Homo sapiens: one gene and its partner. The protein of the gene in region 2 interacts with the protein of the main gene of each other region in a pairwise test. Each region holds a gene or a part of one and is shown on either strand. Other genes may lie near its edges.

Region 1 (3,650 bases), on a different chromosome or scaffold from region 2:
CGTGCCCATTTCCCCAGGGCATGGAGGTGAGATACAGAGTGGGTACAGGATGCTGAAGGGCCCCTAAAAATTCGCAGTTGCACTCCTGCAGTATTCTGAGATGTCTGGAGCTCAGTTACGATTCCCTTTTCCAGGCCGGGCGTGGTGGCTCACACCTGTAATCCCAGCACTTTGGGAGGCTGAGGCAGGCGGATCACTTGAGGTCAGGCGTTTGAGACCAGCTTGGCCAACATGGTGAAACCAAAAATAAAAAAATTAGCTGGGTGTAGTGGCGCACGCCTGTAATCCTAGCTACTCGGGAGGCTGAGGCAGGGGAATTGCTTGAACCCAGGAGGTAGAGATTGCAGTGAGTAGAGATTGCACTGCTGCACTCCAGCCTGGGTGACAGAGCAAGACTCTGTCACCGAAAAAAAAAAATACCCTTTTCCAGGTGGGCAAAACTGAGGCCTAAAGGTCCAAGGTCACTTGGCATAGATGGGATACCCAGGGGCTCTGCATGCAGATGTGTGTGTGGTGGCTTGGGATGGAGGAATTCTCAGCTGACTGGGTCTCCCCACCACCTGCACCCTCCAGGACCCCCCAGACACCCAGTTCTATGTAGGATCTTCTCTGCCACAGGCTGGACCCTGGAGAGTTTCTGCACCCCCTTCAGGACCCCCACAGTTCCCCGCTGTGGTCCCTGGACCATCGCTGGAGGTGGCCCGAGCTCACATGCTGGCTTTGGGGCCACAGCAGCTGCTGGCCCAGGATGAGGAGGGGGACACGTGAGTATAAGGGATAGGGTTGTCTGCAGACTCTTGGCTTGGTGGGGGCTGTTCTCACGGCTGTCCCCCACCTGTCCTCAGGCTCCTTCACCTGTTTGCGGCTCGGGGGCTGCGCTGGGCGGCATATGCTGCGGCTGAGGTGCTCCAGGTGTACCGGCGTCTTGACATTCGTGAGCATAAGGGCAAGGTGAGGCTTGGGGCCTGAACTCTCCTGGGTTCAGGGGAGGAAGGAGCCTGGGGCCTGGACCCCTGGATCCTAGAGAAGAGGGGAATGGGGGGTGAGCTCCTGGGGCTGAGGGGGGATGGGGCTGGGAGCCTGGTTTTCTGACGGGAGGGAACCAGGAGCCCAACCTGACTTCTCCTGTGGCCTGCAGACCCCTCTCCTGGTGGCGGCTGCTGCCAACCAGCCCCTGATTGTGGAGGATCTGTTGAACCTGGGAGCAGAGCCCAATGCCGCTGACCATCAGGGACGTTCGGTCTTGCACGTGGCCGCTACCTACGGGCTCCCAGGAGTTCTCTTGGTATGGCCAGCTGGCAGGCAGGGGTTTGTCTGGGGGGTAGACTGGTTGCCCAGATTTTGGCTTCCAGGGCCAGGAGGCCAGGGGATACCCTTACCCAGCAGTCTGCCTTCTCTTCCTCCCAGGCTGTGCTTAACTCTGGGGTCCAGGTTGACCTGGAAGCCAGAGACTTCGAGGGTAAGTTGGGTGTGGGCAGGGCTGGTGTGGTTGGTGTGGCTGGGCGAGGTGGGTGCAGATGCGGGTCCCTCACTGTCTCCATTCTGCAGGCCTCACCCCGCTCCACACGGCCATCCTGGCCCTTAACGTTGCTATGCGCCCTTCCGACCTCTGTCCCCGGGTGCTGAGCACACAGGCCCGAGACAGGCTGGATTGTGTCCACATGTTGCTGCAAATGGGTGCTAATCACACCAGCCAGGTGAGCGGGGATGTGGGCGGTCAGACCCTGGGAGATTGTGTGGAATGGGGCCACTTGGATGTCCGGGAGCTCCAGGCAAATGCTGACTTTGCCTCTTCCTTGCTGCGTGCCCTTGAACATGTTACTTCACTTCTCTGTGCCTTAGGGGTTTTTTGTTTGTTTCTTTGTTTGTTTTGAGATGGAGTTTTGCTCTTGTTGCCCTGGCTGGAGTGCAATGGTGTGATCTTGGCTCACCGCAACCTCTGCATCCCGGGTTCAAGTGATTCTCCTGCCTCAGCCTCCTGAGTAGCTGGGATTACAGGCATGAGTCACCACGCCTGGCTAATTTTTTTGTATTTTTAGTAGAGACAGGCTTTCTCCACATTGGTCTTGCTGGTCTCGAACTCCCGACCTCAGGTGATCCACCTGCCTTGGCCTCCCAAAGTGCTGTGATTACAGGCGTGAGCCACCGCGCCCAGCAGGGTTTTTTTGTTTGTTTGTTTTTTTGTTTTTGAGACAGGGTCTCACTCTGTCGCCCAGGCTAGAGTGCAGTGGTGCAATCTCATCTCATGGCAAACTCTGCCTCCCAGGTTCAAGTGATTCTCCTGTCTTAGCCTCCTGAGTAGCTGGGACTATAGGCGCACGCCACCATGCCTGGCTATTTTTTTTTTTTTTTTTTTGTATTTTAGTAGAAGTGGGCTTTCATTGTGTTGGCCAGGCTGGTCTCAAACTCCTGACCTCAAATGATCCTCCCACCTTGGCCTCCCAAAGTGCTGCGATTACAGGCGTGAGCCACTGTGCCTGGCCCCTAGTTGTTAACTGGGAATAATATTACTGACCTTAGGGTATGTTATCAAGCACTTACTATTCATTCATCAAGCACTGAGTTTCATAGATTAGCTTATTGAAACCTCACAAACACCCTTTGACATGTGTACTCTATTTTCTCTATTTTACTGAAAAGGAAACAGGCATGGGAAATCAAAAATCTTTTTTTTTTTCTTTTTGAGATGGAGTTTTGCTCTTGTTGCCCAGGCTGGAGTGCAATGGTGTGATCTCGGCTCACCACAACCTCCGCCTCCTGGGTTCAAGCGATTCTCCTGCCTCAGCCTCCCGAGTAACTGGGATTACAGGTTCCCACCACCACGTCCAGCTAATTTTGTATTTTTAGTAGAGACAGGGTTTCTCCATGTTGGTCAGGCTGGTCTCGAACTCCCGACCTCAGGTGATCTTCCTGCCTCGGCTTCCCAAAATGCTGGGATTGCAAGCGTGAGCCACTGCACCTGGCCTCAAAAATCTCTTTGAGACAGGGTCTCACTCTGTCACTCAGGCTGGAGTGCAGTGGCATGATCACAGCTTATTGCAGCCTTGACCTTGTGCACTTAAGTGATCCTCCCACCTCAGCCTCCCAAGTAGCTGTGATCACAGGCATGCACCACCATGCGTGGCAACTTTTTTGTAAGGTGGGGTCTAACTATGTTGGCCAGGTTGGTCTCAAACTCCTGAGCTCAAGCAATCCTTCCACCTCTGCCTCTGAAAGTGCTGGGATTACAGTTGTGAGCCACTGCACCCAGCCTGAAAAATCTTATAGCTTGTGACTGTCAGAGAGAGAATTAGAACCCAGGTAGTCTGACTTTAGAACCTAGCTTTTAATTATGTTCTGTTCCTTTCCTGTGACAGTAGCTCCTTCATAGGCTGGCTGAGAGAATTAAACATCCACAAAAAATGTTTATTTATTTATTGAGATGGAATCTCACTCTGTCACCCAGGCTGGAGTGCAGTGGCATGATCTCGGCTTACTGCAACCTCTGCCTCCCGGGTTCAAGCCATGCTCCTGCCTCAGCCTCCTGAGTAACTGGGACTACAGGCATGCACCACCACGCTTGGCTAATTTTTTTGTATTTTTAATGGAGACGGGGTTTCCCTATGTTGGCCAGGCTGTTCTCTCAAACTCCTGACCTCAGGTGAGCCGCC
Region 2 (2,875 bases):
AAAAAAAAAAAAAACAAAAAGAACGCCACCAGAGGCTGGGGCTGCTGGCTCACGCCTGTAATCCCAGCACTTCAGGAAGCCAAGGCGGGAGGATCGCTTGGGCCTAGGAGTTCGAGACCAGCCTGGGCAACATGGCAAGACCCCTCCATCTGTACAAAAAATACTAAAAGTCGCTGGGTGTGGTGACGCGCGCCTGTAGTCCCAGCTATTCAGGAGGCTGAGGTGGGAGGATCATCAAGCCCAGGAGTCTGAGGCTGCAATGAGCCGTGATTGCACCACTGCACTCCAGCCTGGGCGACAGAGCGAGACCCTGTCTCAAAAAAAAAAAAACAAAAAAAAAACCGTGACTGCACATGAGCTAACCACGCCTGTCCACAAAGTTAGGAAAACGAGCTACCCTCAGCCCGTCCGCTGTCCACAGTGGGGGCGCCAGGGGAAAGGGGTCAGCTTCCCCGCCTGGGGCTGTGTCTGGTTCTGATTGCACTGCAGTGAATCTGCCCTAAACCAAACGTCAGAAAGAAAAGCGGCAGACGTTTCATCACAACACAGAGACAGACAGGAGCCCGCCCTGCTTTAATGCGCATGCGGGGGAGCCGAGAGGCGGGGCTGCTGGCGGGGGAGCCGAGAGGCGGGGCTGCTGGCGGGGGAGAGCGTGTCCGGGCGCCGCACTCTGCGCAGGGCTCTTGGATGGCGCTCACCACGTCACGTCTTCTGTGCTTTCGGCCAAGCACTGGGCCAGGTGGCTGTCAACATCCAGCTGGGTCAGCCTGCAAGGGAGGGGCCACACTCACTCGGCCACCTCCGCGGCATGCTGGCCGCAGAGAGCACCGTCTGGACCTCCGGGCCCTCTCTGCTCCTGCCGCTGGAGAGGATCCGGCTGGTCAGAAACAAGGGACGGGGCCACCCCAGGGGCTCATGCACCCGGCAGACCACGGTAACCGCCAGTGGTGTTTCCACACCGTGCCCGTGAGGAGGCCACGCCAGGCCCCTGCGTCCGAGCTGGGGGTGGGGAAGCTGTGTCTCAACAAGCCTCTCTATGGGATTCTGGCGCCTGCTCAGCTTGAGAACGCGCTCATCGTGGAGCCCGGCAGACAGGCGGCCTGACCCGGAGAAAAGGCAGGACGGCGGGTGGCCTGCCAGGGAGAGCCGCCGCGGCTGCGTCTACAGGAGGCAGAAGAGTAAACATGGCTGGGCAGTGGATGTGCAGCTCACGTCAGAGAATTGGTGTTTCTGGCGAGGAGGGACCAAGCCTCACCACGGAGAAGGACGCCGTCACCGGCGTGCAGGCTGCCAACCTGCCACTCTGGGAGGCCCCACGCGGCCCCTGCACCTCTCAGGAGGGCGCTGGCGCTGGGATGGTGGCCGGCCAGGCAGGGGTGGCAGGAGAAAACCCATCCGAGTCCTGCAGGTCAGCGCCCTGGGCATCCAGTGGGGCCGGGAGGGGTGTCTGAGCGCAGCCACCTTCTATCCCCGGCCTCATGTGGCCCCATCAGCCCAACTGGAGCGGCTGGAAATGACCATCACCAGGCCTGGCCAAGGTGTGGCCCTGGAAGCCAGGACAGTTGACTTCCGGCCATGACTCCCGGAGAGTGCCGGAGCTGGCGTGCTCAGCAGAGCTGCCGGGGACGATGTCCCGGGGCTGAGTGGGCGGCTTCAGCCTAGACTTGGGCCTAGATCTTGCTGGAGGCCAAGTGGTCAGTGTCCCATCAGAGTGACCATCCCTCACACGCCACTGCTGGGGGACACACCCCCACTGAGCGGCCAAGTCCACAGGACACGTGTCCCTGTGTCCACCTGTCAGCCACACCGCCCCTCGCTCCCCTACAGCCTCTGCCCTCAGACCAGTCCACGGCGCGCCGTTTTACCCTTGGGCTTTGCTGTGTCCCTTCCTTTGGCTCCTGTGCCCCGTCTGTGTGGCCACTGCAACCCTCAAGTCCCCCTCTCCAGACCATAGCTGGACCCCCACTCCCGGGGCTGGCTCCAGCAGCCATCAGCTGCCTTCTCACTCTGGCAGAGCCCACCCAGTGCCTTCTGAAGCCCCCGAGGGTCACTCAGTCTGAGACTTTCCGGCTTCTGCCCATCCTGGGAACCAGCCCCTCCCTCCAGAAGCTTTCTCTAAGGTTGCCAGAAGGTGCTAAGATCTGAACCGAGGTCATCTTGTCCCGGGGTTTCCAGGCAGCGTCCCTTGTTTGGGGGCCCTCTGAGATGCCTTCAGACCCCCGCCTGTGGCGGAAGAGCTTTGTCCTGGCCTGATCTGCCCTGTCCGTGACGCTTCTGCTCAGTAGCTGAGCACGCCCTGTGGTGTGGACAGGCCAGCCCGGCTGCAGGACAGTGGGGGCTCAGTCCAGAAGCCTCTGGTGGCTTCTGCGTGTGGGCAGGGGAGCAGGGCTGCAGGGTGGGCTGGCACCTGGCAGCGTGAGGGGCCTCAGGGCTGTTAAAATCCCAACGACCGGCCGGGCGCGGTGGCTCACGCCTGTAATCCCAGCACTTTGGGAGGCCGAGACGGGCGGATCACCTGAGATCAGTTCAAGACCAGCCTGACCAACATGGTGAAACCCTGTCTCTACTAAAAATACAAAAATTAGCCAGGTGTGGTGACGCCTGTAATCCCAGCTACTCAGGAGACTGAGGCAGGAGAATCGCTTGAACCCGGGAGGCAGATGTTGCAGTGAGCCGAGATCATGCCACTGCACTCCAGCCTGGGCGACAGAGCGAGACACCGTCTCAAAAAAAAAAAAAAATCCCAGTGACCAACCCAGGGCCTCGCCACATCAACAGAGACAAAACGCAGCTCTGGCTCTCAACATCCTCACCCCTCACCAGGTGCCCAGCTTCCCATCCACCCACGTGACCCGCAGGTGTCTGAAAATGCACA

What was found.
Region 1: the proteins of FAAP20 (region 2) and NFKBID interact in binary tests that used the Homo sapiens proteins (3 or more experiments, as listed by UniProt).

Annotation. Positions count from the first base shown.
Region 1 is NC_000019.10:35,894,027-35,897,676, reverse strand, and holds part of NFKBID (NF-kappa-B inhibitor delta), read left to right. Parts: coding exon 1-26; intron 27-573; coding exon of another isoform or gene 574-618; coding exon 619-764; intron 765-845; coding exon 846-951; intron 952-1,138; coding exon 1,139-1,285; intron 1,286-1,407; coding exon 1,408-1,459; intron 1,460-1,548; coding exon 1,549-1,697; intron 1,698-3,650. UniProt on the Homo sapiens protein: Regulates the expression of IL-2, IL-6, and other cytokines through regulation on NF-kappa-B activity. Functions in the regulation of inflammatory responses.
Region 2 is NC_000001.11:2,189,015-2,191,889, forward strand, and holds the end of FAAP20 (Fanconi anemia core complex-associated protein 20), read right to left. Parts: exon of another isoform or gene 784-2,875; intron 768-783; coding exon 695-767; 3' UTR 534-694; downstream 1-533. UniProt on the Homo sapiens protein: Component of the Fanconi anemia (FA) complex required to recruit the FA complex to DNA interstrand cross-links (ICLs) and promote ICLs repair.